Linked DNA regions of Homo sapiens. The protein of the gene in region 2 interacts with the protein of the main gene of each other region in a biochemical or structural test. Each region holds a gene or a part of one and is shown on either strand. Other genes may lie near its edges.

Region 1 (3,828 bases), on a different chromosome or scaffold from region 2:
GGAGGAAACCCTAAAGTGGAATACAAACAAATAAATTAACCTAACTGTATTTTAAACTGATAGCACACACTGAAAATATGATGAAGGGTGAGAAAAAAGAACTAAGTTATTTTTGACTCAAGTAGTGTTTTGACCAAAAACTTAGACTAAAGACAAAAAGAAATAAAAACAAATATTGAACTTTAGTTAGTATAAATAAAAACAAATATTGAATTCTAGTTAGTATAACTGTTTCTTGCCATAGTTCAGGTCAGAAATTGTAAAAAGCTACCATGTATCCTAGGATTGACAAGTAACTCAGTACGTTGTGAATGAAGGTCTTGAAGAAGGAAGCTACAAACATGGAAAGGGCCCTAGGGTGCTGAAATGAAATTGGAGACAACAGTATTCCCTCATCTTATTTTGCTTTTTGGAGCTTATTAGAGTGTAACTGATATGCAATAACTGCTAAAGTACAGTATTTGGTAAGTTGTGACATTATGTACATACCATGAAACTATCACTACAATCAAGACAATGAACATAGCCGTCACCTGCAAAACTCATGTCCCTTTGTAATCCCACCGTCAAATACCCCATGCCCAGACAACCAATCCAATTTCTGTCATGACTGTGTGTTTTCTAGAATTTTATGCAAACGGCATCAGAGTATGTACTAATCTTACTAGTCCGAAAGTCATCCATGCTGTAGCATGTATCAATACTCTACTTCCTTTTATTGTTGATTAGTATATATATTTTTTGAGACGGAGTCTTGCTCTGTCGCACAGGCAGGAGTACAATGGTGTGATCTCGGCTCACTGCAACCTCCACTTCCCAGGTTCAAGCGATTCTCCCGCTCAGCTTCCCAAGTAGCTGGGATTCCAGACACCCACCATCATGCCTAATTTTTGTATTTTTGTAGAGATGGAGTTTCACCATGTTGTCCAGGTTGGTCTCGAACTCCTGACCTCAGGTGATTCACCCACCTCGGCCTCCCAAAGTGCTGGGATTACAGGCGTGAGCCAAGCCCCACCTGTCGACTAGTATTTGATCATATGGATATGCCATGGTTAGTTTAACTATTTACTTGTTGGTAGACATTTGATTTCTACATTTTTGGCTATTACTAATAAAGCTGCTACGAATATTCATGTACAAGCCTTCGTATGGACATATTTTTCCATTTCTCTTGGGCAAATACACACCCAGGACTGAAAAAGCTATATCACAAGGAAAGCGCATGCAACTGCCAAACTGTTTTCCAAAGTGATTGTGCCATTTTACATTCCCACCAGGCGTGTATGAGACCCAACTGCTTCACATCTTTACCAACACTTAGTATGGTCAGTCTTCTTTCATTTTAGCCATTCTAGAGGGTGTATAGTGGTATCTCGTTATGGTTCTAATTGGCATTTCCCTAATAACTAATAATATTAACAAGTTTCATATATTTATTTGCCATCTACATATCTTTCTTGGTGAAGTCTGTTCAAATTATTTGTCCATTTAAAAAATTGGGTTATACATTTTATTATTTTTTGACATGGGGTCTCGCTCTGCTGCCCAGGCTGGAGTGCAGTGGCATGATCACAGCTCACCACAGCCTCAACCTCCCAGGCTCGAGCAATCCTCCCAGCTCAGCCTCGCAAGTAGCTGGGACCACAGGTGTATGCTACCACACCCGGCTATTTTTTTTTTTATTTTTTGTAGAGATAGGATCTCACTATGTTGCCCAGGCTGGTTTTGAACTCCTAGGCTCAAGCAATCAACCCACCTCAGCCTCTCAAAGCACTGGGATTACAGGCTGAGCCACCACACCCAGCCAGTAATTTTTTATTGGGTTCCAGACATTGTGAATTTCATCTTGTTGGATGTTGGGTATTTGTATATTCCTGTAAACACTCAGGTAGGGCTGAAGCAGTGCTCACTCTAAGGCTGATCATTCCCTACTACAGAGGCAAGACCCCCTACTCTGTATCATACCCAATGCCCCATGAAATATTTTTCCAGTCTTAGCTGGTGGGAACAGGCACTATCCCTGGCCATGGGTGAGCACCAGACATGTTTCCTCTAATTCGAAAAGTTAAAGAGGAAAGGCCTTTTCACTGACCTTAAGTAGTTTTCTTGCACAATGTGCTGGTCAGTATTCAGCTGAGTGCCAGTGGAGACTCTGCAGACCTGTGGGGTTCTCTCCCTGTGCAGAGCTGTCTCCGCTATCGTCTCTTGCATGTGAATGCCAGCCACCCTGGCCTCCCCTGATGCTCAGCTCTGCCTTTTCAACAGAGGGTCTGCCTGGACTCCCATCTGGGTTCTCCCTCTTTCTGTTACAGCACGAAAATTCTCTCAAGGCAGTAGGGCAGGGCAACTGGAGAGCTCAGTTCATTTGTTTCCCATCTCTCAAGAGATCACTGCCCTTTGGTGTCTGAAAACCATTGCTTCATATGTTTTGTCATTGTTTTCATTGTTTCACATGGAAGGGTAAATGTTAATCTGCCTTTGCTGGAAGCCAAATTCATGGTTTTCACAGACATAGAGACAGGTGTATCTGTGCAATTTGTTGTGCATATATATGCACGTATGTATGTGTATATGTATGTACACAACAAACACATACACACACATACATACATCTATTTCCTGATACTATTGGCTACGAAAGCAATGACATAATAGCAGCAATGAACACTCTGAGAACCCGGATCCTAGTTCCTAAATACCATTCTCCAGGGTTCCTTGAAGAAATGGCTGATTCCAGGGCTGGCACAGAATACAAATTGAGCTCAGCATATATTAGTATGCCAAGAAGAAAGGAGGTGCTCAAAGAATGGTGGGGACATACCAGAGGGACAAAGGAGCCAGCTTGAAGGAGCTCCCACCCATGAGGCAAATCTAAGACAATACGAGCATCATAATACCCCTACTAATGGATTACAGTCATGGAAAAAAAAAGAATCCATTAGTCCACACTGATCTAAAAATAAATTAATAAATAAATAAGAGAGAAGGAAAACCTTCCTTACAATAGAATGTTAATCACCATTTGGCAACCATTGTAGTAATAACTGACTGAGGAAAGAATCATCAATAGATATTAAAACTAGTGGATAAAAGTTTGATGAGAAACAGGATATTTACACAGTCTCAAAGCATATTCCTTGAAAGCACAAATTAATTACAAAGGTAAAAATATTAACCTTAGCATTGAGAAACCTGGCAGACTCCACCTTAACCAAGTGATCTTAAAAATCAACTTGTAATAGGTCAAACCAGCATGTGTCTCCTGATAGATGCACTGAGTAAGATACGGTATCACCTCTGTGGCATTCCTACCAAAAAAAAAATGTATGCATAGATGGGTGTGTGTGTGAATGATAAAGCAAAAGCTGAAAAATGTTAATAACTTAGATAAAGGATATAGGAGAGTTCTTCGTATTATTCCAACTGATTTTTTTTTGAGACCCAACTGATTTAAGTTTGAAATTACTTCAAAATATGAAATTAACAAAAAAATTAACCATGCTAAATAAAAGTCTTTCTGAAATGCTACACATAAACCTGCCTTCTTAAACTGAGTACCATAAGCAGCAATCTTTGGTAACTCAAGGCCATCACATTGTGAACACAGTGACTGCTAAGGGATCACTAAGCAGGGCTATCTATATACTCCATGGTCTTGAGCAATTGTTGAGTCTACATCTCCTAACTTTTCTCCCTTGACATAAGCTATCAGCTTTCATACTTCTAGAATGTCTGTCTCTAGCCACACGCTTGTCCCTCTCCCTTATGATGTTACTTTAATCTCCTGTGGTTGGAAAATCAGATTAATGTAGCATATAGCATGTAAAG
Region 2 (3,828 bases):
TTTTTTAACAAAAACATTTTGTTAAAAATCTTAAAAGCACTGAAATGCTAACAAGATAGTAAGGAATCACCAGCCCAAAACTGAGGGCAAAACAGGAGCAGAAGGAAGGCACTTTTGCACTGAGGTCAACTGCCAATTATCAGCAACGTGAACTTTGGTTTTAACCAAAGTTAAAATTCTGGGCCTGTCCACGGTGGCTATCTTTATGGTAACCCTCCCAAATTAAGCAGGAACCCCAAAATGCTATATCCTCAAGAATAAATTCATTCTCCTGGACAAACAGCCCAAATTTACCTCATCTGTATTGCCCTCCAAACCCCAAGCTATGTACTTAAAATGATCTGTCCCTGGTATATTCAGACACCTGTATATCAAAATTAAATGAAAGCTTCCTTCTAGACCTTAAAAAATTCATACAAGTAATTTTCACAGCCAACAGGAAAAACAGAAAATATAACAGAAATCAATCCTACACAAAGACTTAAAAATTGTCAGACTATAAACAAATACATACCTACAGACATAGTAAGCCTGGTTGTCTTTGATCTAAGTTTGAAAACACACTGTCTGCAAGGAAGTCATCTATTAAAGGTGATATAACAAAATTTGGAAAACTAGAACTTCTAGAAATAAAACTAATGAATCAAACTAAATGGGCTGGCTTAAGAGTAAGATACACAGCTGAAGAGAGAATTAAGTGAGCTGAAATGAAGCCTAGAAGAAAACTTTGAAAATATGGCAGAGCCACAGAATCTAAAGGACTGAAAATACTGAAATGAAAAGACATGTTAAGATCCAATGAAGCCTAATAAAGACTTCATACAAGTTCTGGGAGCAGGAGGACAGAATATTTGAAGAAGTTAATACGCAATAATTTTCCATTTCCTTAAGTGATGAAAGACACCAATCCACAGATTCAAGTAGCCCTACAAATCAAAACCATAAAATAAAGAATCCATATATATATATACACACACACACACACACATATATTTATCCAGCTCCGGATACATCAGTAAAAAGGCAAGATAGCAAAAACAAATTCATCTCAAAAGCACACACAAAAAAGGTAGATTAACTTCAAAGGCACAAAAAGACTGACAGCTGTCTTCTCTTCAATAAGACACTAAAAGACAACAGAATCCTCAATATGTTGAAAATAACTAAGGCTCTTAAAATACTATCCCCAACCAAAACATCTTTTAAGAATGAAGGTGAGGCCATGTGCGGTAGCTCACGTCTATAGTCTCAGCACTTTGGAAGGCTGGGGCAGGAGGATCGCTTGAGGCCAGGAGTTCAAGGCCAGCCTGGGCAACACAGATCATCTCTACAAAAAATTAACATGCCTGCTGTAGTCCTAGCTACTCGGGAGACTGAGGCAGGAAGATCACTTGAACCCAGGAGTTTGAGGTTACAGTGAGCTATGATCGTGCCACTGCACTTCAACATACCTCCTTAAAAAAAAATCTGTAATGTAAAAGACAGTTTCAGAATAAAACACTAATCAGAGTTGGTATCACGTATTAATGTCAGGAAAAAATAGACTTCAAGGAAAAACATTAAGATAAAAAGGTCACTTTATAATAAAAGGTTCATACATATATGGTGTGTATAAGATCTCAAAAGACATAACTGACCCTAAAAACATGCTTGAAGGCATTTTTTTTTTTTTTTTGGAGACAAGGCTTTGCTCTATTGCCCAGGCTATAGTGCAGTGGCGTGATCACAGCTCACTGCAGCCTTGACCTCACAGGCTCAAGTGATCCTCTCACCTCAGCCTCCTGAGTAGCTGGGACTACAGGTATGCATTCTCCACCACACTCAGCTATATTGTTTTAATTTTTTTTGTAAAGACAGGGTGTCTCACTATGTCGCCTAGACTGGTCTGGAAATTCTGGGCTCCCGCCTTGGCCTCACAAAGTGCTGTGATTGATTACAGGTGTGAGCCACCACACCTGGCCTCCTGAAAGGAAATCTTCCTTCCTAAACTGAACTAAAAACAAAATCTTCCACTGAAGAGGGGAGGCAACTGACTGAACTAATTGGATACATAGAGCTGACATAAGGCTAAGAAACCATTACCCAACTGCAGTCACATAACGTTTCAGTCAACACAGGACTGCATATACAACAGTGATCCCACAAGATTATAATGGAGCTGAAACATTCCTATTGCCTAGTAATGTCACAGCTCAATTCATTATTCATGTTTGTGGTGATGCTGGTATAAACAAACCTACTGCAGAGTCATATAAAAGTATGGCACTTACAATTATTTACAGTACATAATACTTGATAAGGACAATAAATGATTTATTGGTTTATGTATTTACTATACTATGCTTTTTGTGGTTAGAGTACACTCCAACTTATTTTTAAAAAAGTTAAAACTGCCTACAGTATTCAACATAGCAACATGCTATACAGGTTTGTAGCCTAGGAACAACAAACAGGCTATACCATATAACCCAGGTATGTACTAGGCCGTACCATCTAGGTTTGTGTAAATACATTCTATGACATTCACAAAAGGATGAAATGGCTTAATGATGCATTTCCCCCAGAACACATCCCCATCATTAACCATGCATGACTGTGTATGTAAACAAATTCTATGCTGGAAGAAGACTTCATGACCATAACTGCTATACAGCTTTTCCCTAGAGCACAGTGGGATACAAGGTGGAGTGCTTTTGAATTTCATGCTGCTATGGTTTGAGTATTTGTCCCCTCTAAAACTCAAGTTGAAATTTAATCCCCTATGTGGCAGCACTGAGAGATGGGGGTCTTTAAGAAGTGATTGGATCATGAGGGCTCCACCCTCACAAACGAATTAATCCATTCATGGATTAATGTATTTCTTTATAAATTACCCAGTTTCCCACCAGGGGAGCTGGAGAGCCAAGCTACCCAGTTAGCACACTCAGCCCCCTCCCCATGTGATACCCTGTACTGCCTTGGGAACCTTCAGAGTCTCCACAAGTAAGGTTCTCACCACATGGGTCCCCTCGATCTTGGATTTCTCAGCCTCTATAACTGCAAGAAATAAATTCTTTTTTTTTAAATAAATTACTCAGTTTCAGGTATTCTAAGCAACAGAAAATGAACTAATATTCATGCTGATTTATAGCAGAACAGTGTAAGTCAACATTCTTTCAAAACCAGGATAAAAATTATCTCATCATAAGTTATCACTGCTCACGTACGTAACCACGGACGGGTTATCTAACCACTCCACACCTATTTTTTTTCCTTGTTAAAATGTTGATGCTACCTGTCTCTAAGTAAATTAAATGAGCTAATAATACACACAGAATTTAAAACAATGCCTGAATAATCAATCAGTGTTGCCTATTACATTATTTATCCCTGTTATGCTCTTCTGTACCCTCTTTAGAAAATAATTCCAAGACTGAAATTATAACTCTAGACAGGTGTGGTGGCTCACACCCATACACTCAGCACTTTGGGAGGCCAAGGCAAAATCGCTTGAGGTGAGGCATTTAAGACCAGCCAGGGCAACACAGCAAGAGCCTGTCTCCACAAGGAAAAAATATATATAACCCTGTTTCCCAATAAAAATTAAAATGTACAAAACTTCTGAATAAGTAAAAATATATACAAATATGCAGGAAGTAAAAGGCAGAGTTGGTAACCAAAGGTATAGAAGCCATTTTCTATGGCAAGCCCACTAATGTACTCTAATGTTCTGTAGTCATTGTGCTAAACGACTTACATATGGATAGGTGTAAAGTAACAACTCTCTCCTTCTAACCCCTATTCTGCCCAAAAACTTATTTAGATGAAACTAGTTTGAAATGGAACTTA

What was found.
Region 1: the proteins of NAP1L1 (region 2) and ERCC6 form a complex in vitro, tested with the Homo sapiens proteins (one large-scale study listed by BioGRID).

The regions. Positions count from the first base shown.
Region 1 is NC_000010.11:49,466,062-49,469,889, forward strand, and holds part of ERCC6 (DNA excision repair protein ERCC-6), read right to left. Parts: intron 1-3,828. UniProt on the Homo sapiens protein: Involved in repair of DNA damage following UV irradiation, acting either in the absence of ERCC6 or synergistically with ERCC6. Involved in the regulation of gene expression.
Region 2 is NC_000012.12:76,078,026-76,081,853, forward strand, and holds part of NAP1L1 (nucleosome assembly protein 1-like 1), read right to left. Parts: intron 1-3,828. UniProt on the Homo sapiens protein: Histone chaperone that plays a role in the nuclear import of H2A-H2B and nucleosome assembly.